7 linked regions of the Homo sapiens genome follow. The protein of the gene in region 1 interacts with the protein of each later gene in a pairwise test. Each region holds a gene or a part of one and is shown in the gene's direction. Other genes may lie near its edges. The genes, in order: TASOR2, CTNNA3, JPH3, TRIM23, TRIM42, PIH1D2 and LMO1.

Region 1 (3,500 bases):
CGTCTGCCCGTGTGAAAAAATCTTCTTGCTCTCGTATAGTGCTTAGCTGTGATGACTCCGTTAAGATCACTTTCAAATGTGAAACAGAATATGCATTCAGTTTAGACAGCAAATATACCAACAACCCACTGGAGAAAACTGTAGTAAGAGCATTACATGGGTGAGTATGAGTGAAACTTAGTGAAAATGGATGAAACTTTTCTGTTGAGATGAATGTAGTGAGATGGGGAAACTTATGCCAAACTCTGGAGAAGGAGAAAGAAGTGTTGTGTTTAAAACCAGTAATTTGATAATAACATCAAGCAAACATGTTTCCTGGCAATTAAGAGTAACAGGCTGGTTTTCCCCCTGTGCTCATGTGGAGAAGTTTTTAAAGATAATTTTAGCCTAATGAATAGCTTTCCATTTTGCAATGCTCCCTCGTAAGCCCTTGTGGCTTTTGAATTTCAATTTTTAGATGAGATCTTAATGTAAAATAGTGTGAGATTTAGAAATAATGCTTTACAGACTGAATTCCAGAAGAAACATTTTAAAAATCACTGTAGCTTGGTAAATTGGTCAGATTGATAGGAGTAAGCAGTTTCACATAAGATTGTTCTATAGATCTCCCTTAAGAAGGAATCAAGTCAGTAATAACAGAGTGGTGAACAGCACAGGCTTTGGAGTGTAGACTAACCTAGATTTGAACCCGGGTTCTTTCCCTTTCTTACCTCCTGTGATCCTGGGCAAGTTTCTTGCTTCTGGACAGTGCTTCTTAATTGTGTGTGCTGCTCATCTAGAGATTTCACTGAACTGCAGATTTTGATGCATTCTCCTTGGGAGAGGCCTGACATTCTGCATTTCTAACAAATTTTCAGGTGATATCAATGGTGGATGACAGTCTGTGGCCAACATTTAATTATGTAGCTGTGTCCTGAGGTTACATATATTGAGATGCACAGTGACTGGCCAGTAGTAGTAATAAATGGTAACCATCACTGTTAGCAAGCATTCATTAGCTATATGAATTGACATTCAGCTCCCTATTAATGAACTGTTTCACATCTGACTATATGGACTCTACAGCTGTCAGGCTTTCTTCTATACACCTGTTCATATATACTCATAAGGGTCATTTCCTTAGAACTTCCTGTTTAGCTATTGCCCAACTCTGCAGCCCCCCTGACTTATGGTACTCCAGCGATCTGCCATCCTTTTGCCTGCCAGGTGGCCAGAAATGTTTTCTATTTCCCCTTACTGTTTCAGGATATTTTGCAGAACTGTAGTCTGAAAATAGTATAGTTCTGTTGAATTGCCCAGAGAGATATTTTATCTTCAGACTTTCTCAATTATTAGAAGAGAGACACAAAAATGGAAAATAAATGAATCAGCCAGACTTAGCAAAAGCATGGTGATGAGGATTTGGGTATTGGCGAAACCATTTCTATAATAAGTATTCTGTGTCCAGAGTGAATTTGTATGGTGTAAAAGACACGTGCTACCCATGTTCAGATCATGGTTCTGCCATACAGGTTTTGTGATTTGAAAGAAGGCAATTACATGTTCTGATTCTCAGTTCCCGTCTCTGTAAAATGAGTGGGTTAGATGGATAATTATTTGTTAAGTCAACTACATATTTACTCATTCATGTTTCATATCTGTAAATTTTAAAAATAAAAACAAAAACTAAGGAATATTGGAGGCACTTGCTTATGATAAGGTAATCAACTAAAATAACCATTTTCAATGATTTTCATGTGTTCTTTCTGTAAACTCTTAGGCCCTGGAATACTGATTTGCCTGATAATGTGGAAGAAGTGAAGCTTTTACTTCATATGTGGGTAGCTCTGTTTTACAGCAATCAGAACAAAATCATACGATCTTCCCGAAAGGTTGTAGAACACAGCAACCCAGCAAAATATGTGTCTATAAATAGCACGTTAGAATCTTGTGAGCTCCGTGAAATTGAGGAGTCCCTTGGTTTGGAAAAATGTTCTGCAGACTCTCTGTTGGAGACTAACGAAATTTCCAGGGCTCATGCTGCTGAAGTATCCTTCCGTGATCCTAACTGCTTGCTTCCTTTCATTAAAACACCACTTACCCAAGGCTTGGAACTCTGTGTACAAAATGAACAGAAAAAAACTTTTGCAAGAGAGTGTGATCCAGACACCCAAGAAGACCAGAATTTCATCTGTTCTTACAATAATGAGGTATGTAAAGCTGAATACCGTTAAATGTTGGCATTATTTTTGAAGAAAAAAATGTTTATATGTAAAATCACATTCAAAACAAGGCATTTTTAAATTTTAGGACAGTGAATTCTCAAGGTATGTAAAGAACTATTACACCAAAAACCTAGTTTTCATGAAGTGTCCTTGAATTGTCTGCAGGTAGAGCTTACCTGCCATCCCGATTGAAAAAAACCAGAGTAGAAAAATGTCACAGGGTCCACATGATCTGGGAGCCCAGCATAATTTGGGGCAAATTGCTTCTTTGCCTAATTTTTAAAAGAGGTGACTTAATACCTATCAAGTCTTATGTAGAATATTGTTTAAGGATCAAATATAGCAATAATAAATCTTAGATATACTTTGATAAACCTTAAAGTAAACTAAAATTAATTGTATTAAAATTATTTTTGAAGACAGATGCTGGAATAGTAAAATGCCAGACCTGTGAAAGAAGACCCATTGCAAATAACTATTTGTAAATATGGAAAATATACTTTGTTTTGTTCCTTGTTCTCAACTGACATTCAACCAGGCCAGATAATCCAAATTTTACCTGGAGCAAATCTAAAAGTTGTTAACAAAATTCTAAGCAAATGAATTGACAAAATTACCTACCTTTTAAAGTTTTCCGCCCAAATTTATTCTAGAATAATATTGCTTGGGTTTGGGCAGCATCTCTGATTCCTGTCTTAAGAAAGAGTAGACAGTGTTCCTATACCCGGGGTCACCGGGGACTTGGAGGTCCTTGGGTGAGCCTCATAGAACCCGTGAATATCTTCAAGTGATTGTCATCATCATGAGAATTAAAGATTTCTGGGTCACTGTGTGCCAGAAAGTAAGAGTTCTAAGCCCTTCACTCATATTAACTCAGTTCATTCTCAAATAAGTTAAAGACTATTAATCTCCCCATTACATAGATGACGAGACTAAAGCATAGAGAAGTAAAGAAATTGCCTAAAGTCACATAGAAAATTGTCAAGCCAAGATTCCAGTCTAGAAAACCTAAATGTTAACTATGTATGTGCTTTTTTTTTCCCCTAAAGATGGGGTTCAGCAGTTCCATCCTATTCTCAAAGAATTACATAAAATCCAGTTAAGAATCACCACCTTAGAATAAGAAAATATAGTCTAGTCAGGGAGATTTAAATTAATACATATATACATGCTAGTTTCTTATAAAATACCATTTGTCGTGGTAATATGTAATTAACTATCATCAGTACTAATTTTAGCAATGATTTTGGCAAGCCTGACTGTTCAAATCAGTGATTCCTAACAATCTCCTTAGTA
Region 2 (3,500 bases), about 61 Mb from region 1:
GTAATGCTATTCATTTACATTTACTGCAAATTGTCATCTCTGAAGAAATACCTTCTCGGACCATTCAGCCTAAAGCAGCTTTTCCTTTCAAGTCAATCTCTATGACACTTCACTTTTGTGTTTTCTTCATAGCATTTATTGTCACCTGAAATCATCTCGTATATTTGTTCATCTAGTTCATTGTTTGTCTGTAGGCCCTTTCCCCCCAAAAGAAAGAAGAACAAGGTCCTTGTAGGATTTTTTCATATCTGTACACTGGAGTCCAGCACAAGGGCTAGAATATGCTAAGTGCTCAGTAACTAATTGTTGAATAAATATCAAAGAAAGAATGATATAGGATTAATTTATTAGTATTTCTGAAAAAGAAAAATAGCTGAATGGTGGGAGGTTTCATTAGTGTTCTTAACTCAATTGGTCTAATTTTAACGGAGAGGTTAAATGCAATTATCAACATCTATGGAATGAGGTAATCAGCATCCTTGTAATTCAAGCTCCCATGTAATGCACTTAATAATGTGAATGCCAGAGTATTTTAGCTACTTATAAGGATTTGACTGACAAGGACTTGACTGAATAGTAATGGATCTTTACACATCTGCTCTACGGGGACCTTTACTTATTAACTGTGTCATTGTTTATACTGCAGAATTTTTAACAGAAACTGAAAGAATGTAGAAATAATAGATGCCCTTGATTATAACTTATAGCTGACTTCTTCATGTCTATTATCTTTTCATTTATACTTACAAAAAAAGAAGCTTTTTAATTTAAGTCTTTCTCCCATAACCCATTGTAAGATACCACTCTTTTTATTTACCTTCTCAGGACTTAAAATCTCCAAATCAGAGAGATGAAATTGCAGGAGCCCGAGCTTCACTGAAGGAGAACTCTCCCCTCTTGCATTCAATTTGTTCAGCTTGTTTGGAGCATTCTGATGTTGCTTCCCTCAAAGCAAGCAAGGACACAGTTTGTGAAGAAATTCAGAATGCTCTCAATGTAATTTCAAATGCTTCACAAGGGATCCAGAATATGACAACCCCACCAGAACCTCAGGCAGCAACCCTGGGAAGTGCCCTTGATGAGCTGGAGGTAAGTCGGGAGAAAGATAAAGTGTGATCTGATGTCCTAATACAGTAATAATAATAATAAAACAGAAGAAGATCCACATGTTGGCGTTTAGAGCATGAGAAAATAAAAAATCCAGATTAGTCTCTATCACCTTCTTGAGTCTTCCAAAGAATTGATTAACAGGAAAGTACTCTGTTAGTAAACTTCTGACTCCTGTACATCTCTGCCAAGGAATCCAATGAATTTGAAGTGGGATTGTTAATTAGATCGAAATGATGACTTTGTTTTATGTAGATCTACTTATGAAGCATAAGATTTATTCACTCCACAAATACTTATTGGCATTACTGTTCTATGTGCTTGGGACATATCTGATCACTTCCCTTGACAAATTTTTACATTTTAGCAGGTGATTATAGGCAAAAAATAAAACCAATAAACACTGTAGAGAACAAAATTGTATAGATGTTACACTGAGAAGGTGAGATAATGCCAAAGCCTTGAAAGAGTTCAGGAATCGGGCAGATGAAGATCTAGAGCAAAGGCTTGAAGGTATGTGCCCTGTGTTTAAGTGACAACATAAAAACCAGGGTGTCTAGGTGAAGACAGCAAAGTGATGAGTAGCAGGAGCTAAGGTTGGAGAACCAACCATTTAGGAGTGTGTATGCCTTTAAGGACTTTGGCTTTTACTCCAAGTTAAATGGGAATACACTGAAAGGTTTTAAGCAAAGGTGTGACATGCTGCGACTCGTGTCTTAAAAGGACTATGATAGTTGCATAAGGAACATAGACTGAAGGAGAACAATGAGAGGAACTGAAAAACCAGGCTGGAGGCTATTGTAGTAACCCAGGTTCCATTTATACACTTTACATGAACCACCTCATGTTTTAGTTTAGACTAGAGTGGTGTTGGTGGACATCAGTGCTAAATTTTGTAAATAGAGTCAACTGAATTTTGATAGAATGGATGTGGGACATGAATGAAAGGAAGGAGTCATGGCTAGTGTTGTAGGCTGGGTCCTCCAGAATCACACACAGAATGGAGTTTGGAAAACAAGGTGTTACATTTGGGAAGGAAAGAGGGAAGGAGCGGGACTGGATAGAGGAAGAAGTCTACCTGACAGCTAGACCCGCAAAGCCTAGGCCAATCAGCAGGGAGCTCTGGTGAGAGCATTGCCCTCCAGAGTGTACCTTGTCAGGCAGAAATGGCCAGGCCTGTATGTCTCTTTCAGTCACTGGATGCAGGTTACTCTACCCTGGGAAGGGTATGACCTTTAGGGGCCTGAAACACTCTATATACACACTGAATATGTATTACTTTTGCACCATGATAAAGCTGGAAAAAATTATAAGTTGAACCATTGTTAAATCAAGTCAGGGACCATCTGTAGTCTGTATCTGGGGAGTGCCGAGTGTGATACATTGAAATTTGTTAGAGTAGATAGATAGGATCATACGGGTTGAGCATCCCTTATCTGAAATGCTTGGGACCAGAAGTGGTTTGGATTTTGGAATTTTTTGGATTTTGGAATATTTGCATATACCTAATGAATTATCTTGGGAATGGGATTGATGTGTAAACATGAAATTCATTTATATTTCATATATACCCTATACACATAGCCTGAAGGTAATTTTATACAACATTTTAAAAATTTTGTGCATGAAATGATGTTTTGACTGCATTTTAACTGCGACCTGTCACATGAAGTTAGATGCTGAATTTTTCCCTAGTGCCATCACATTGGCATTCAGAAAGTTTTAGATTTTGGAGCATTTTGGATTTCAGATTTTTAGATTAGCAACGCTCAACCTGTATAGCACATTTTTCACAGTACTAAAACACAATTGTGTCAGAGAATGCTCCCATAAGAGCTCCAGTTTATCTCAGACAATGCATTCTGTATTTTAGGATTAAAGAAGAAGACATTTCCAAATTGTTCCTCCTTCTGAGACCTCTTCTCTTTTCTCTTTTTAGTTGAAAGTGACTGCCACAGGCACAAAATGGCAGTGGTTGGAGAGGAGGAGAAAGTGTGCGTGTTATGTGTGTAACTTCAGTGGGAGTGGGCATAGGCAGGGCAACAGTGTTCTCTTAAGAAAGGCAGACTCAGTTGTTCTTCATGAGGCGGGAAGGGGTCCAAAAGATATTTCTCTGAGATCCTAATGAGGATTCTAAACTGTCTGAACAACCTTTGAAATTTAGTTCTAGTCAAAGGTACAGATGCACAAACTAGTAAAAAATGCCTAAGTTTTCTATATTTTTTATATCCAAGTTACAAATAGCTGCTGTGGCTGACTGAACTAGATAAAGCAGAATTTATTGAGCATTTAACCTTTTTTAATGATTTGGTAAATTAAATGGTTGCACTTTTCATTATTTACAGGAAGCTGTATTGGTAAAGGATCCAAAATAACCTTTGCTCTATTTTGCT
Region 3 (3,500 bases), on another chromosome or scaffold:
AGCCTCTTGAGTACCTGGGATTACAGGCACCCATCACCATGCCTAGCTAGTTTTTTTGTATTTTTAGTAGAGACAGGATTTCACTATGTTGGCCAGCGTGGTCTCTAACTCCTGACTTCAGGTGATCTGCTCGCCTCGGCCTCCCAAAGTGCTGGGATTACAAGCATGAGCCACCCCACCCAGCCAACAAACGCTTTTTAAATATAAGTATGTCCCATGCAGCGTGTCCCCTAAAGAACGATGTGTTGTTCATCTGAAACTCAGATGTTACCAGGCGTCCTGTGTTTGATGTGACAACCCTGTCCACAGCCCTGGCACGGAAGGGGCAGTCGCTGAGGGTGCAGTCTTGGGGTGAGGGTCCCTGTGATGGCAGCCTGTGTCCAGCTTGGACTGGCCATGGGAAGGCCACTGTGTGGGCGGGTCTGGCCTTGGTAAAGGGCCACCCCCTGAGACCCACCGAGCCTAGTTCCAGTTTCCTCCTCACAACCCCAGCCTGGAAGGGCGTTCGGGTGTGGAGCAAGCCACAGGGTTTCCCCCCAGTGTGGTTCGCATTGGGGTGCCGGGTGGTTCCGAGTCAGCTGCCCCCTCTGCCTCCTCCCCGTGCCCATCACAACTGCCCCCAGTGCTGGGACCTCTGGGCAAGAGGCTGAGGCTGACACTCTGGAAAGGTGTGCAGTGGTGTTGTGGGGTCCCTGGGGTCCGGTCCACATACATCCCTGCTTGCCCGGCTCTTGGCATCCTGTAGGAGAAGGTGCCACAGCCTAGTGGGTGGGAGGGCAGGAGCCCCATCACTGGAGTCGGAGGTTGCTTTTGATGTTGATGGCAGTGAGGTTGCTTCTGATGTTGATGGCAGTGAGGTTGTTTCCGACGTTGATGGCAGTGGACTTGCCTCCAGGTTAGCTGCCTCCCCAAGCAGCTTTGGGGGTACAGAATGACCGACCAGTGTGGGATCCCAAACATCCTATCCCCTTGCCTGAAAGTGGGACGAGGCTGAAGCTGACCTCTCGCTGAGACCACCTCATTCGGCCCCGTCCTCTGCTGCCACGTCCTTCTTCCTGGTACCCCCCTTCTCCAGCCCCAAATAAGTCACGTTCACAGGATCCCCAGCTCAGGCTCTGCTCCTGGAGAAGCTGCCCTCAGAGGCTGCGTTGCCGATTCCTTTTTCAACGGAGAGGCTGCAGCGTGTGGCAGGTGCCACCATCTCTTGGAGTGAGGCAGCCTCAGGGGCTCTGTCCGGGGCTGCAGCCTGATTGGTGATCTTTGCACGCCCCTTCTCTGCCCTGGCTGGGCCATATGCCACATGGGGCGTGAGGGGCCTGCAACACAAGTCCCTCTGGGGGCTCGTGATGTGGTTGAGCTGGAAGATACATTCTGGAACATCTAAGACCCCAGCCACTGTCCTGAGTCTGGATGCCGCGGGTGCCGGGCATGGGGGCTCTGGGCCCGGGCCCTGGGGTGCTTGGAGGTGCTGTGGAGGAGGGGTGGGGCTGGCTTGGAGCCCATGGGATTCGATTGGAGGGTGGGAGTGTGAGAGAGGAGAGAGCGTGAACAGAGCCTTGGACAGAAAAGCCTGGAAGGATCAGGACCCTTTGGGGGGTGGCGGGTGAAGGTGGCGGGGTGTGGGGATACCCTGGGGACGGACAGGTCACTTGAGGCTACAGGACTTTGAATTCCACACTTAGTTTGGATCCCACCCTCTGGTGTGGGGCGTGTGAGTGGAGGGGGCCTGGCTAGGGAAAGGGGGGGGGCAGTGGGGAGTGGAGGGCTGCTTCGCTCCGAGAGATGGCGGCACCTGCCACCCGCTGCAGCCTCTCCGTTTAAAAAGTGACTGGCAGAACAGGAGCAGCTGCTGCCAGCTCCTGTCCATTTTGTCCTCTGAAAAGAGAGGTCGGGGTGGCCAGGTCCTCATTTTTCAGGAGACAGAAGAGAGCTGAATTTTTATGTCAAATCTCTTGGTTTTGAGTTGTTAGCAGGTAATTCCAATGTTTTATGAAAACAGCGGTGGGACGAATAAAACCTACGTATCAGTAAGTCTCGGCCTCCAGGCCTCTGGTCTGCAGCCTGTGCCACCGTGAGTTGGAAGAGTGGTGGACGGACTCTGTTCTCCCCGCAAAAGCCCTTTCCAGGGTGGCACATCCACGCCGTTAGTGCCCGGCTGCAGGGAGAAGCTCAAATGACAAATGAGGCTTGAGGTTTGCCGCGTTGGGCGTCGTGCTGAGGCCCAGCCGTCCTCACGGTGACCTTTGGCATGAGGAGTCCTGGTTCCACTCTACAGACGAGGACACTGAGGGCCAGCGGGGCCCAGAAACTTCCCTGAGTCACAGCTCACAGAGCAAGACATGGGCCCAGGTCTGCTGACCGGGTTTCCTTTTTATTTTATTGTGGTAAGAGAAATACAGAATGTACCACGTTAGCTACTTTTAAGTATACAATTCAGTGGTATTAATTACCTTCACGGTGTTAGGTAGCTGTCATCACTGTTTACCTCCAAGGCTTTCCCATCATCCTACTGCAAAACTCTGTCCCTATTCAACACTGACCCCACAACCCTCCCCAGCCCCTGCACCCACCGCGCTTTCTGCATCTCTGAGCGTGACTACTCTAAGGACCCCGTGTACATGGAATCATCCGATATGTGGCCTTTTGTGCCCAGCTCAGTTCACTCTGTGTAATGTCTTCAGCGTTCATCCACATTGCAGCCTGTGTGAGAATGTTCTACCTTTTCAAGGCTGAATGATGTTCCATCGTATGGACGGACCGCATGGCGTCTGTCCATTTACCAGGTGATGGACTTGTGGGTTGCCTTTCCCTTTCCAGCCATGGAAACAGTGCTGCTGAGAACCCAGGTGCACAGGCAGCTGCTGCAGTCCCCACCCTCCCTTCTTCTGGGGATATCAGGTCTGCTGATTTTATGTCTGAAGGTCATGGGCCACTGTCCCTTCCCTATGCCCTTGAATCTCTTCCATGGTGTGTCCACTGTGTGGTCTTCCTGGATACCTCCAGCAATGGGGAGCTCACTGTCTCCCAGAGCAGCCCATTCAGGGCTTAGTGTGTAGCCCACACCTGTGTCCCTGTAGCTGCCACTCATTAGCCTCCTAACCCAGGACGCGTTTCCTTGTGCCCTTGGCAGGGGCTCCGTATTCACTCTGGGTTCTGTGGTCCTCACTCTGCACCACAGACTCTGATGCCTCCCTTCTCCCTCCCCGATTTCCAAGAGAGAACAAGATCTAGCCATGAGAAGCAGGATGGAGGTGTCTTCAAAAACAGCCACTGGTGATAGAAGTTGTAGGAAGGTACCATGGTCTGTCTGCCTCCACGCAAACCTCACCAGGTTTCATCAAGATAGCACACCAGGAGTGGTGTGGCTCATGACTGTAATCACAGCACTTCTGGAGGCTGAGGCAGGATCACTTGAGCCCATGAGTTAGAAACCAGCCTGGCCAACATAATGAGACTGCCATCTCTACAAATAATTTACAAAGTAGTGGAGCATGGTGGTG
Region 4 (3,500 bases), on another chromosome or scaffold:
CTGTTGGTTTGTATGTCTCATCTTTATGCCAGTACCACATAGTTTTCATTATTGTAGCTGATATGGCTTGGATCTATGTTCCTGCCCAAATCTCATTTCCAGTTGTAATCCCCAATGTTGAAATGGGGCCTGGTTGGAGGTGACTGGATCATGGGGGCAGTTTCTCATGAATGGTTTAGTATCATCCCCCTTGGTACTGTCTTTGCCATAATAGGTGAGTTCTCATGAGATCTGGTCGTTTAAAAGTGTGTGGCACCTCCCCCACCCTCTCTCTTGCTCCTGCTCCTGCCATGTGAAATGCCTCACTCCCTCTTTGCTTTCCACCATGATTGTAAGTTTCCTGAGGCTTTCCCTGAAGCCAAGCTGATGCCAGCATCATGCTTCCTGTACTGCCTGTGGAACTGTGAGCCAATTAAACTTTTCTTTATAAATTACCCAGTCTCAGGTATTTCTTTATAGCAGTGCAAAAACAGAACAATACATTAGCTTTGTAATATATTTTGAAGTAAGGAAGTGTGAGTCCTCCAACTTTTTTCTTTTTCAAAATTGTTTTGGCTATTCAGGGTCACTTGAGCTTCCTTATAAATTTTAGCTTAATTTTTTCTATCTCCACAAAAAACATGATTGGGATTTTGATAGGGATTGCATTGAATCTATATAAATTACCTGGGCTGTTATTCATATCTTAATATTTTATGTCTTTCAATCCATGGACATGGAATGTCTATTTATGTCTTAATTTATTTTAGCAATATTTGTAGTTTTTAGTGTACAAGTCTTTCACCATCTTGGTTAGGTGTACGCCTACATATTAGGTTGGTGCAAAAGTAATAGTGGTTTTTGCCATTAAAAGTACTGGCAAAAGCCGCAGTTGCTTTTGCACCAACATAGTATCTTAAGTCTTTCACCATCTTGGTTGAGTTTATTCCTAAGTATCTTAAACTTTTTTTTCTGTACATGTTCAGAGAAACTTCTTTAGTCATAAACTATAAAAATGATCCCTGAAAGTATAATTTTGATGCTATTTTAAGTAGAATTGTTTCCTTAATTTCCTTTTGGGATTTTTATCATTAATGTATAGAAATGCAACTGATTTTCATGTTGATTTTATATCCTGAAACTTTGTTGACTTTATTCTAATAGGTCTTTTTGTGTGGACTCTTCAGGGTTTTCTACATACAAGATCATGTCATCTGTGAAGAGATATAATTTTACATCTTCCTTTACAATTTGGATGTCTTTTATTATTCTTCTTGCCTAATTGCTCTGTGGGCATCTTCTTGTTCTTTATCTTAGAGAAAAAGCTTTCAGTTTTTTGAGTATGATGTTAGCTGTGGGCATTTCTTATATGGTGTATGTTAACTGAGGCAGTTTCCTGCTACTCCTAGTTTGTTGAATGTTTTTATTATGAAAGGGTATTGAATTTTGTTAAATGCTTTTTCTGCAACTATTGAGATGATTACGTGCTTTTTTTCTCTCATTCTGTGTATTATGCTGATTGATGATGAATAATTCTTGCCTTCCAGTTATAAAGCCCATTTGGTCATGGCGTACAATCCCTTTAATATGTGTTTTTTTTTTTTTTGAGGCGGAGTTTCGCTCTTGTTGCCCAGGCTGGAGTGCAATGGCGCGATCTCGGCTCACTGCATTCTCCACCTTCCGGGTTCAAGCGATTCTTCTGCCTCAGCCTCCTTGTAGCTGAGATTACAGGCGTGCGCCACCATGCCTGGGTAATTTTGTATTTTTAGTAGAGACGGGGTTTCTCTATGTTGGTCAGGCTGGTCTCGAACTCCTAACCTCAGGTGATCCACCCCCAACCTCGGCCTCCCGAAGTGCTGGGATTACAGGCATGAGCCACCACGCCCGGCCTAATGTGTTGTTGAATTCAGTTTGCTAGTATTTTGTAGTTTCCTCCTGGTTGCACCTCATCCTCACTATGTTGGATATGGGGAAGGGCAGGGATGAGTGCACAGAATGCCCCAAATTTTATTACCCCTTTCACTGGAATGCCTTCTTGGTTTTATGGCCTGGGTGCTGTAGTTTCTTAACTGTTCTCTAGAGTTCTCACAGAAGTAGTTCTGTTCCATATATTGTTTTATTTCTGAGGTGTATAACTGGACTTAAGTATAGATTTGGAGCCATAATATACATGGTAATTAAAGCTCATGAAGAGAATGAAAATATGTAGAATGAGAAGGAGGCCTCATATAGACCCTCAAGAATACCAACATTTAAGAGCTGGATTAAAGAAAAATTAGAAGGAACATCCAAAAATGGGATAAAACCAAACCAGGAAAAGTTTGTATCATAAAATCCAAGCAAAGAGTGCTCAAAGGAGTAAGCAAAAATAACACATATATTTTGGGAACTGTTGTAAGGACTTTTATATGTATTCTTAAAAATTAATCCTTTCAAGAATCCTATGTAAATTTTGTACTATTTTAATCCTCCTTTTATGAGATGAAAGAAGTGAAGCAGAGAAATCATGCAGCTAGTAATATATAAAAATGTTCATTATAGCATTATTTGTAATATCATAAAATCAGAAATTACCTAAAATCTATCAGTTGGGGGTTTAGTTAAATTGTGGTTTATGAAATGTAAAGAAGCCATTAAAAGAAAAAGGTTGGTCAATATGTATTGACAGGATTCCATAATATACTGTTGAGTGAAACACATTAGTTTCAATGTGTGGGTAATACTTTTTTAAAAAAAAATTTGTTTTGTTTGTGTATGTTGGCCAGTATGTGCATGGAAAGTGTCTGGAGGGATATACATCAGATTCATAGTAGAAATTTCTGGGAATTGAGCAGCACTTTTTCATTTTAATTGATTTACCCTTATTGTGATTTTTTTAGTATAGCATAAAAACATGTTTAAGATTTAGAGGATTCATTTGAGTTAGAAAATCTGAGAAAATTAAGTGGGTATGTATATTCTGTTATACAAAGACAAAGTGGTCAGTTTTACTAAGGCAAGATTTAGCCATGGGGAAGGATTTCATCTTCTTGAGATCAGACTCAGTATTTTGAGGAATACAATTCAGATTGCAATGGTTGAGGAATGAATAGGAGATGTAGAAATAATAAAGGTGCTAAATGCTATTACTTTCTAACTGCATGTCAAACATATTTAAAAATATTTAAATTGTAGGATAATCGAGTTCACATTGGACCAAAAATGGAAATTCGGGTCGTTACGTTAGGATTGGATGGTGCTGGAAAAACTACTATCTTGTTTAAGTTAAAACAGGATGAATTCATGCAGCCCATTCCAACAATTGGTAAGTATGAATATTGGTTTTTACCTTAATAGACAAACCCTAGCTTACAGCCAAGTTCTTGGGGTCTTATTTGATACTGATCTGTCATGGTGGTGGGCTCTTTTCTGGCTCTAAGATATCAGCATCTCAGAGAAAAAATGCAAGATTGTATGACTATGGGATTGAAATGTGGATGGGGATAAAAAGAAGAAACAGAGTATTGGTGGGACAGTTGGAA
Region 5 (3,965 bases), on another chromosome or scaffold:
GAGAGATTGATAAAACTGAGTTTTGGCAAACGTGAGGAAAAGGAGTTTCACTTTTTTGAATGTTGTATGTTCCTTGCTGGTATTAACTGGCACATTTATTTGAGTAAGAAATTTAGCAGTTTGCCTTAAAAAAAGATAAAGGACATACCCTAAGAGCCGGGATTTTCACTTGTAGAAATCTAATATCAATGTGTGGCTGGCATAGTTGGCACTCAGTGATTTTCTCTATTATAAAGGTGATAACCATAGGGGGAGATACTAAATTATGCAGTAAATTCCTGCAGCTAAACTCAGCTCTCACTTCTGCTTCTTTTTCTAAAAACAAGACAGTATTCATACTATAATGTACTATGACCATGAAATTTCTGTTCTTTTAATCTTTGCAAGCTGCTTAAATGGGAAGGTGAAATTCTTCCCTAAAATATAGGGTCTTTTTTCTAGGAATACTGAGCATATACTAGCAGAACAGTTAAAGATTTAATGTAGAGTTCCAGCCTCTTTTTGGAGTGGGGGTAGGATGGGGAAAAGACAGAAAGCTTGAACCTCACCCAAACACCATGCAGCTACAAAAAACCCAAGAAATATTCAGAGTGACTTAAGTATAAAGCTTCATGAAAATGAGCAGCGACTATGCATTGATTGATAAAATCAATTACTACTGAAAGAAGTTCCTAAGTGAACCTATATATTTTTTTCTTTAACTCTTTCTCTGAATGGTGATATCTCTTTAAATATGGCATTGCTATTATTTGTAAACACTGTCCTTTGTTCAAATAGAATTCTATCAATTCCTCTAACATGTGGAAAACCATGTGAATCTACTTTTCTAATTAACCATACCCAAGCCTTTCAGTCTACGAAGACATAATCTGAAGTCCACTTGTCCAAATTGCAGGCAGAACACCAAACAAGGAGAAATAGCTTCAGAAATCTACTCCATTATCCAAAAGGTGACAAATGACAACTAAACTTCCAGGATGCTCATTGCATCACCACTCCTCTACAGCTGGTTCCATGGAAGCATGGAGTTTCCACCAACATACCAGCTACCACCCACAAGGCCGCATCCTGCTATCTACCTAGCATGGTAGAGAGACAGGGATTGTGACATAAGCAAATACCCTCAGACTGATATATGTAAATGCCAGCCTATGAGCTTCCTGGTAGGGACACCAGCTGTGAAGTCCTCATAACAGCCAACTTCTTGCAACTTTCAAGCTGACGGCCTCAGGAATGGGAGGAAGGACTCCTCCACTGGAGAACTGATAGCAGTATTCTGGTAGAGGAGGCATCAAGAGTCCTGGGAGGCCGGTGGTAATCATGTAGGCACCATGGAAACTGCTATGTGCGTTTGCTGTCCATGTTGTACATGGCAGAGATGTTGTCCTCAGTTATGCTCCTGTCTGTGCTGCAAGTTCATCTTCACCTCAGAGCGGAACTGCACCTGCTTCCCCTGCCCTTACAAAGATGAGCGGAACTGCCAGTTCTGCCACTGCACCTGTTCTGAGAGCCCCAACTGCCATTGGTGTTGCTGCTCTTGGGCCAATGATCCCAACTGTAAGTGCTGCTGCACAGCCAGCAGCAATCTCAACTGCTACTACTATGAGAGCCGCTGCTGCCGCAATACCATCATCACTTTCCACAAGGGCCGCCTCAGGAGCATCCATACCTCGTAAGTGCCAGGCACCAGATGTGGGGCCGCATTGGGTCATGAAAACTAGGGACCACTTGCCAGCTGTGAAGTCTACAGGGCAGGCCAGTGAGCCTCTGAGTTCATTTCTTTATCTAAAAGGAGGAGCCAAGAATTTTGTAGCAATTAATTGTATCCTAAATGGTCACTATGTATGTAGACCATGAGCTCCAAATCTAAGCGCCATTAACTATGTAAATGAGCACTTCACTCTTCTGAACCCCAACTCTCTCATCTGTACAAAACAGTAATAGCTAATACTTAGTGCTTAAGGAACTTGCCAGGCACTTCATGCATGACCCCAGCTAACCCCTCACCCTAAGTCCACTGTTTCCATGAGGAAACTGATCCTTTGAGAAGTTAAGTAGCCCCAGGATCACACAGCTGGAAAGATACAGAGTCAGGATTGGAACCTAAAATTTGGGATCTTAACTTTAAAATGCTGTATTGCAAAACGGAGACAATACCCCCCCCATGATATTGTAGATATAAGGATTAATGTATGTGCTTTGTAATCTGTATGTGATATAAAAATATAAATTGCTCTTTCTCTTCCTATGAACTCTTAATACCTGTAACTTTTAATGGAAAAGAAAGAACTTCTATGGGGCACTTTTGACCCTGCGGACCATATAAATACCCCATACATCCATGAACTCCTACTACCTTCTTTTTCCCATCCAGAAGTCATAGTACTTAGGGTCTCAATTATTCATTTGGAGTGCTAACCCTTCATATCAGGTCCTACATTATCCTCACCTGCTCTACCAAACCAGTCTTTTTATGTCACACATGAGGGGAGTCTGAAGTAGTAAGAGCACACTTCTTAGAAGCGGAAAGATGACAGCACCATAAGATGACAGGATTAGAAGAGGCAGAAAAATGGAAGGCCAGTTTGAAGGCTTTCAAGCCTGGAAAAGCAATTCTGTGAGCAAAGGTTTGGTGAATTCAGGGGAAAGATATTATCCATCTTGCAATTAAACATTTAGTAGATGCTTAACAAACATAGCTCTCCACCCATGACCCTCTCATAGTGTTTGCATAAATAGGAAATCCAGGGATTCTCGATGCAAGTCTAGAAATCCTAAAACATGGAAAATTGTGTCCACACTCCTCTCTCAACTACCTGTTGTTCAGTTGTGCAACAGCAACTGAACCTCTGAGCCCATTTCAACAGGAAAGGGATAAAATTGGTGCTTTAGGAAAATGCCTTAGGCTCAGTAGCTCCCCAACGTTACTGTGCATTGAAGTCACCTGAGGATCTTTTAAAATTACTGATGCCTGATCCCCACCCCCCCAAACATTGATTTTATTGGTCTGGGGTACCATCTGAGCATCTGAATTAATTAGAATCAACCCCCCCACCCCGCTTCAGGTGATTCTAATGTGCAGAATGGCCTGCAGGAGGCTAGGAGGGAAGCCAGGAGATTTGATAGGTGGTACAGTAAGAATCCAGGTGCAAGAACAGGCCTGATTTTGGGAGACAGAGGGGGCTGTGCAGAGGAGCAGAGACAGGATATCTCAGCAAGAAGATAAAAGCGCTGGGCTTGATGACTGTTTTGAAATGGAACCATGGCCACTGAATGCCCCGTCCAAGCCTGAGGCTTTTGGAGGATGGGCAGGGATGCTACCACAAGTGTTAGGAGGTCGGCTCTGGGTGCTTTTCTTCAATCTGGCCTCTCTCCTGGCTTCTGACCCTCTGCCTCCCCTGCTTCTCATCACCACCTTCTGCTCAGCACCTTACTTGTCCTGCCTCACTCTGGTCTCATTCATCCCTCTCCATCTTAATCTTTTTGTCACTTCCTTTTTCACCCCTAACACAGCTCCCTAGGCCATTAATACCTGTCTCTTAGCCCTGAGACCTCTTTCTCATCCTCCAACACCTCCCTCCCCCACTTCTTCTTTCTTTTTTGTGAAAATGCTAGTTCATGAGCTTCCTAGTAGAGATACCTCCTGTGAAGGCCTCATAACAGCCTCTCTTTATATTATACCTTGATTCTCCAGGCCTTACTTTTTTAAGCAAACTAAAGTCCATCCAGGCACTACATGGACAATTAACCTGTACCACCAGGTGATCCCTTCAGGACCCATGCAGGAATCTGGGAAAGCAGAGAGGAAATAGAGGTGAGAACATCGAGGCCAGCATGCCTAGAGCTCCCAGATCCCTAAGGGACAAATTTTCCAGGTGCCTTAATATACACAGGGAGCATTCTCTGTCACCACAGGGCCACTCCATTCCAATATACTTGGGAAGCACCTGTGACTGTCAGGACTC
Region 6 (3,720 bases), on another chromosome or scaffold:
GGAAAATTAAACTGCTTTAAGATGTTTTTGGATCCTGTATACATTTTGCAAACTAGAAATCTCTATTTTAAAAGGTGAAAAACTTAAGATAGAAAAATGCAAATATTAAATATTAGAAATATCATATCCTTGATTTTTAAATCCTGAAAAATTTTCAATCAAATTCTTTGGTTTAAGATTCTTTTGGCTTGATTCCCAAACTAATTTAACTGCAGCTTTATCTACCATCTCTACTAACACCACATATATTATAGCTCATAGTATTTTATGTTGTAGATTTATTTTTTATCTCCCCTCCACCCTTTTTTTCATAAAGAACTAACTCTTGGACAGATACGAAGCAGTACTATGAGCAATCCAGATCACTTTCCTCAACTGTTACTGCCAAAAGACCAAGTTTCAGGCAAAGCAGTGTGTCTGATAGAAGAGATTTCCAGTACTGAAATCCAGGTGGAGATGAAGATGCCAGCCTATGAACTAAAAATTGTGCATGATCACAGTGAGAAACCTCTGAAAATTGAGTTGAAAGTTGAATTACCTGGTATTAATTCTGTCTCTCTCTGTGACCTTAGTGTTTCTGAGGTAAGTTGAATAGATAACACTGTAAATTTGTATTGGCCAGCATTCACTAACATATATTATGCCACAGTAACAAACTACATAATTTCAGGGGCTTACAATGATTTGCTCAGGTTACCCGGTGAAGGAGCAATTCCCTTCTGAGATGTGCCATTCACATCTCAGCAAAGGGAAAATAGAATGATCAAACCATGCAGTGGATCGTAATACTTCTACTCAGACATGACACTTCATGATATCACTTCTACTCACGCTCCACTGGCCAAAGTAAGTCACAAGGCCAGTTCTACATCAGTAGGACTGAGAAGTGTATTCTCACAGTCACAGGAAGTCATATGGCAGGGTAAACGTACTATCCTCTTACAGAAGAGCAAATAGTTAGAGTCAGTCCTACAGTCTACCAGTCTACACTCTTGGTTGCAAATATTTGCTTCTTTCTGGAAGGAAAACACCTCCAATCCCAGTATCAGACTCCAAAGGACAGAATTTTGCTTTCTCTTCCTCTTGAACCATGGACTAAGACATGTAAAAAAAGTTATGTACTCCCTCAGTCCCATCTGTCATGCAATGTGGAATGGGGAGAAGATAACCGTAATTAACCATCTCAATTCAGAAATGGGAAAAATAAGAGGCACACTGCAGTTACTGGTGCACAGCAATTCTGAAATCCTAGTAGGCAGACATTGTGAGGGCTCCTTTTCTGGAGGTAGAGGATGTTCTTACTTAGGTTCCTTGAGAAAGTTCTGTAATTACCTAGCTCCCCAGTTCCATTTTTTTCCACGACCTTTAGCTTCAGTCTTCAGGAAGATGTTTTCTTTTTTTTTCCCTTTCCCACTATCCACCTTGGCCACATCTGAAGAGTATCGGAGAATGTGCCATTCTTATATGCTAAGTAGCCTCTTCAGCCTGGTTCCTGCTCATGGAATCTTGGGGCTCAAAGGATTGTTTTAAATTTTGAAGGCAGTTTCTTTTAGTCCAGGCTGGTAGCATTTTGATTCCAGTCAGTGATACCCATAATTCCTTTTTAGACATTGCCCATATTTCAAGACTTACCTGTCTCTTTAGACTTAATTGCTGTCATTTTAGCCAAATGTAAGGATTTACTGAAGTCCACCTTAGTACAGTCAGAGGTTTTGGCTGGGTACGGTGACTCATGCCTGTAATCCTAGGATTTTGGGAGGCCGAAGGGGGGTGGATTGCCTGAGCTCAGGGGTTCGAGACCAGCCTGGGCAACATGGTGAAACCCTATCTCTACTAAAATACAAAAAAAACATCAGCCGGGCGTGGTGGTGGGCACCTGTAGTCCCAGCTATTCAGGAGGCTGAGGCAGGAGAACTGCTTGAACCCGGGAGGCGGAAGTTGCAGTGAGCCAAGATCGAGCCACTGCACTCCAGCCTGGGCAACAGAGCGAGACTCTGTCTCCCCTCAAAAAAAAAAAAACAAAAAAAAAAAAAAACAAAAAAAATTCAGAGGTTTTAACAAAGAGCATAAAGATTTAATCTTTGCCTCTATATTGCCTTAATCAGCTTGGTTGATAAAAGTAATTTCTCAATTTTATCCCTTACTTGCTGAAAATAAAAATTAGTTCCACTTTTCAGTCATTGAGTCTTGGAATCTTGGGGCTCTATAAAGTCCTTTTTATTTATTTATTTATTTTGAGACAGTCTCACTCTATTGCCCAGGCTGGAGTGCAGTGGCACCATCTCAGCTTACTGCAACCTCTGCCTCCCAGGTTAAAGCGATTCTCCTGCCTCAGCCTCCTGAGTAGCTGGGATTACAGGCATGTGCCACCAAGCCTGGCTAATTTTTGTATTTTTAGTAGAGACGGGGTTTTGCCATGTTGCCCATGTTGGTCTCGAACTCCTGGCCTCAAGTGATCCACCTGCCCTCAGCCTCCCAAAGTGCTGGGATTACAGGTGTGAGCCACCGCACTCAGCCAATTCCCTTTTAATTTGACTTGCAAAATGGTCCATTCTAAGCTCATCTTTCTTGTAATATCCTGTTAAATGTAGTGAACAGAACCAACACATTACCATCTATTTTCCCACTTCTTCACCTAAAGCCACAAATCAACTAGGCACAGAGTATTTATCATCCAAATTACTGTGATAGTTTCACTAAAGGCTTCATCATTATGAAACATGGATCACTACCTTTCCAGGCTCCAATAAGTTTCCTTGCTGTTTGCTGGTCAGCCACATAATTTAGGATGGCAACACTCTACTGTGGTACTGTATCAGTTAACGTGTGATGTAGTGAGCAGCAGTAACCACCTTAAAATCTAAGGGATTTACAACAGTAATTTTTTGCTCATTCCAAGTCACATGGCAACAAATGGGATCTTTTTATGGCAAAGGAGTGAATAACTGGGAACAATAAGTTAGTATCCCAAATTTTAAGCAGGAAATAAATCTCTTGGTTTATTATTCTTAGGATGATTTATTGATTGAAGTATCTGAGAAGTACAGATTACATCTGAATCTTCCAAAACTTATTGATACTGAAATGACCACAGCAAAATTTATCAAAGAAAAATCCACGCTAATCATCACAATGCCTTTGGTGTGAAAGAAGAGCATCATATGTTTTGGGTTTTCAGTGCTAAAGTCATGTGAATTAAAGGACCTTCATTTTGGCTAAAGAGGTAGTAGTTTATCTTAAACACCAATTCCATTATTTTCTAAGTTCATTTTGACTGAGATTTTCTCTTCACCTGTTATGTCAAATATATATATATATATATATATATATATTTTTTTTTTTTTTTTTTTTTTTTGAGACGGAGTTTCGCTCTTGTTGCCCAGGCTGGAGTGCAGTGGCACGATCTCAGCTCACTGCAACCTCCGCCTCATGGGCTCAAGCGATTCTGCCTCAGCCTCCCGAGTAGCTGGGATTACAGGCATGCACCACCACGCCCAGCTATTTTTTTGTATTTTTAGTAGAGACGGGGTTTCACCATGTTGACTAGGCTGGTCTTGGACTCCTGACCTCAGGTGATCCACCTGCCTCGGCCTCCCAAAGTGCTGGGATTACAGGCATGAGACACCATGCCTGGCCATGTCTTATATTTTTTAACTCACTTCTTCTCAAATAAACATCAACCAGAATTAAAAACTATTGCTATGACACACTTGTTTTAAA
Region 7 (3,500 bases), on another chromosome or scaffold:
CTTTGGAAGTGGAGAAGCCCCAGAGGTTCCTATGGCATGTGTCCCATCTTGCTTGCCTGTCCTGTCTGGAGTTGGAGGACACTGAGACATGCAAGGTGTCCTCCCATTTCCAGGCTTAGCTCTTTGTGGTGCTGCTAGAGTGAGTTTTCCCAGCAGGCCCATATTTGGGATTGGACTACACCAGTGGAGTCAACTTGTCCTGGCTTGCAAGAGATTCTGTACATCTGTTCCCAACTCTGAGTTCAGAGACACTGCATTGGTAGCTTGAAGTCAGCCACAATGGGAGTATTTGTACCATGGATGTTGGCAAACACTACAAATCAGGGCATTTTCCCAAAGACTTGGTCGTTAAGCATGCATCAGCACACCACTGGATTGCATTCATCTGGGACTCTGGACCTACCCTTTTCTCCTCTGCTACCACCATTCTCATCTCACCTGCTATCTTTCTTGTGGTGCTCATTACAACCAGTCTGACCCAACCTCTGCTACCCTGGCATCCTGCCTGAGGCCTACTGCTGCTTTGACCATCACACTAAACTATGCAGGTTTAGTATGTCTGCTCTGGTTTTGGGTTCCATGAAGACTCAGCATTTGCCTCTATTCCCTTGTTCCTATGTCCTCCTTGCCTGGCATGCCCTTTCTCCTTTAGTTGGCTGAGGCTTCTCCCAGGCCATTCCAGGCCATGCTCAGAGACACATCCACCAAACCTAGCAACAAGCTTGTTCGCTACTGGTGGGAGTGTGTTCGTTTTGTGTTCTGTCCAAGGCAGGAGTTCACAGTAGCTGATACAACTGGGGGCAAATTAAAAGCAGGTGGTGTGAGAGGAGTGAGCAGATTGGTCCAGGTCGCAGAGGCAGCTGCCCAGTGTGAAGGCCCATGGGCTCAGGTCACTAGCTCCTCCCTCCTGTCCCTTCCCCTGGAGGTCAACTGGGCTTTCTTGAGTGGCCTCCTGTCTACAGGTGTAGTCCGCTAGCATGATTCAGAAAACCTGGGTTTTGTCCCAGCTGACTGCTGTGTGACTTCAGCGCACTGGGCCTCAGTTTTCTCATCCCTACAAAGGGTGAAACACCTAACTGGCACTTTATGTCCAAGCACACACTTGATAAACCAGAAAGTTTCATGCTTGTATGAATTGACATTGCTCTCTGTACAGTTACAGTATCATCTTTTGGCTTTGGCCTCTCAGTCTTTAGGAGTCATAAAACACTATAGCTATCATTATACTGAACCCGTACTTAAAAGTGCAGCATTGGCCGGGCGCGGTGGCTCACGCCTATAATCCCAGCACTTTGGGAGGCCGAGGCGGGAGGATCACGAGGTCAGGAGATTGAGACCATCCTGGCTAACACGGTGAAACCCCGTCTCTACCAAAAATACAAAAAATTAGCCGGGCGTGGTGGCGGGCGCCTGTAGTCCCAGCTACTCAGGAGGCTGAGGCAGGAGAATGGCGTGAACCCAGGAGGTGGAGCTTGCAGTGAGCCGAGATCCCGCCACTGCACTCCAGCCTGGGCGACAGAGCGAGACTCCGTCTCAAAAAAAAAAAAAAAAAAAAAAAAAGTGCGGCATTGTGCTATCTGTATGTATCAATTAGTTATTGCTGTGTAATCAGTTACCCTAAAATGTAGAGCCTTAACACAATAAGCATTTATTTAACTCAAAAATCTGTGGGTCAGTGATTTAAGCAGGGCTTGGCTGAGCAGTTTTTCTGGTCTCAGCTGGGCTCACTCACATCTGGAGGATGGAGGATGGCTGATCAGTTGGATGCTGGGCGTGACAAGACTGCATGGCCCTCATTAGCCAGAAGGCTTGTCCGACTTGTTCTTATGGCAGAGACCGGTCCGGAAGGTGTGGAAGCACAAAAGCCTTCTCTTTTTTGAGACATCTCACTCTGTTGCCCAGGCTGGAGTGCAGTGGCACAATCACAGCTTCCTGCAGCCTTGACCTCTTGGGCTCAAGTGATCCTCCCTCTTCAGTCTCCCAAGCTGAGACTATAGGTCCATATCACCATGCCTAGCTAATTTTCGTATTTTTTGTAGAGATGAGATTTCATTACGTTGCCCAGACTGGTCTTGAACTCCTGGGGTCAAGCGATCCACCTGCCTCAGCCTCCCAAAGTGCTGGGATTACAAGCTTGTGCCACTGCGCACCACCACACCCAGCCTACACAAGGCTTCTTGAGGCCAAGGTTTGGCACTGGGATCTTGTCGCTTCTGCTGCATTCTATCGGCCAAAATAAATCACAAGGCCAGCCCAAGTTCAAAGGGTGGAGAAGCAGATTCTGCTCTTGAAGGTAGGAGGTGAAAAGTCATATAACAAATGGTGTGGCTGTGGGGAAGGGTAGAGAATTGGGGCCATTTTTGTAATCAGTCCACCAAGCATCTTCCATGTATAATCTCATTTAATACCCATAAGAACCTTAGGAAGAAGCTACTATTACCCTCATTTTACAGATGAGAAAATTATTGTACAAAGAGATTGAGTAATTGGTTCCAGCTCCCACAGCTCAAGAATGCCAGGGCTGGGCTGTGAACCCAAGCAGGCTGACTGCAGAGTCAGTGCGCTCACTCTCTCTGCTCTGTCTGCTCCCTTTTCCAGCTGTCAGACGTGGGGATGGAGAGAAAGACACTCAGAGTTCAAGGAAGGGTGACGAACCTGTGAGAAGATGACTTGGGGAGGGAGGAAGGTTGCTGTGGGCAGTTTGAGTGGGGCTGCCATGGGAGCCCAGCTCCATTCCTCCCAGGGCCAGCCTCGGTGGGGAGGGACCATAATCAGGTCAGTCCCCGTTGCCTCTTTCAGGTTTTCCTCTCTGTCCTGCAAAGCCACTAGACGGCTTGAAAGGATGTGATGTTCTGTGTTCCCTGAGCTGACTTAGACCTGAGCATATATGCAGATGCAGCCAGGTGAGAATCAATTCATTGGTTGGCCCCTAGCCTCAAAATGGGGTGGTAAGTGGGCTGGTGAGAGGCCTGTGTACATTCATAAACCAGCTGATTGAAAAGCAATATTTCAGATAAATACAAGCCAGCGATCTATCAGTGGTTGTAATAAAACCCAGGCTTCAGGCTGTGATTTTATTTTGAAATAATAAGAATTGCTTGATTCTTTTTACTTGAGTTACCATGGTAATTCCGGCGTGGAGCAGTGTTATATTGATTTAGAAAGTGGACAGTAATATTTCTTTTGTGTTATTCTGTTTCTAGGCCTTGATTTCTAATTTCCACTTGGAGATTACTTTTATAAATTTCTTAAGTCCTTCCACTTTTTTTTCCTCTCACAGTATAATTTTCCTCTCATACGCCGCTATGTTCTGAGCTTATTGGTTTGCTCTTATTTTAAATTAAACTTGCTGGTTTCAAATATTGAAATGACATCTTTGTCTGTGTCTGTACTTTGGTTTAGCAAAATATTACAGTCTGACGCATTCTGCTTAATAATTTAGGGGAGGCATTCTGTCGGCCCTCACTGGGTGCTGATAACTTATGACTCAACCAACGCAG

Evidence for each region.
Region 2: the proteins of TASOR2 (region 1) and CTNNA3 interact in binary tests that used the Homo sapiens proteins (3 or more experiments, as listed by UniProt).
Region 3: the proteins of TASOR2 (region 1) and JPH3 interact in binary tests that used the Homo sapiens proteins (3 or more experiments, as listed by UniProt).
Region 4: the proteins of TASOR2 (region 1) and TRIM23 interact in binary tests that used the Homo sapiens proteins (3 or more experiments, as listed by UniProt).
Region 5: the proteins of TASOR2 (region 1) and TRIM42 interact in binary tests that used the Homo sapiens proteins (3 or more experiments, as listed by UniProt).
Region 6: the proteins of TASOR2 (region 1) and PIH1D2 interact in binary tests that used the Homo sapiens proteins (3 or more experiments, as listed by UniProt).
Region 7: the proteins of TASOR2 (region 1) and LMO1 interact in binary tests that used the Homo sapiens proteins (3 or more experiments, as listed by UniProt).

Annotation. Positions count from the first base shown.
Region 1 is NC_000010.11:5,740,338-5,743,837, forward strand, and holds part of TASOR2 (protein TASOR 2), read left to right. Parts: coding exon 1-160; intron 161-1,759; coding exon 1,760-2,189; intron 2,190-3,500.
Region 2 is NC_000010.11:67,217,196-67,220,695, reverse strand, and holds part of CTNNA3 (catenin alpha-3), read left to right. Parts: intron 1-825; coding exon 826-1,089; intron 1,090-3,500. UniProt on the Homo sapiens protein: May be involved in formation of stretch-resistant cell-cell adhesion complexes.
Region 3 is NC_000016.10:87,640,508-87,644,007, forward strand, and holds part of JPH3 (junctophilin-3), read left to right. Parts: intron 1-3,500. UniProt on the Homo sapiens protein: Junctophilins contribute to the formation of junctional membrane complexes (JMCs) which link the plasma membrane with the endoplasmic or sarcoplasmic reticulum in excitable cells.
Region 4 is NC_000005.10:65,596,834-65,600,333, reverse strand, and holds part of TRIM23 (E3 ubiquitin-protein ligase TRIM23), read left to right. Parts: intron 1-3,153; coding exon 3,154-3,283; intron 3,284-3,500.
Region 5 is NC_000003.12:140,676,899-140,680,863, forward strand, and holds the start of TRIM42 (tripartite motif-containing protein 42), read left to right. Parts: upstream 1-1,165; 5' UTR 1,166-1,331; coding exon 1,332-1,672; intron 1,673-3,965.
Region 6 is NC_000011.10:112,067,298-112,071,017, reverse strand, and holds the end of PIH1D2 (PIH1 domain-containing protein 2), read left to right. Parts: intron 1-316; coding exon 317-582; coding exon of another isoform or gene 583-591; intron 592-3,012; coding exon 3,013-3,147; 3' UTR 3,148-3,220; downstream 3,221-3,720.
Region 7 is NC_000011.10:8,253,879-8,257,378, reverse strand, and holds part of LMO1 (rhombotin-1), read left to right. Parts: intron 1-3,500. UniProt on the Homo sapiens protein: May be involved in gene regulation within neural lineage cells potentially by direct DNA binding or by binding to other transcription factors.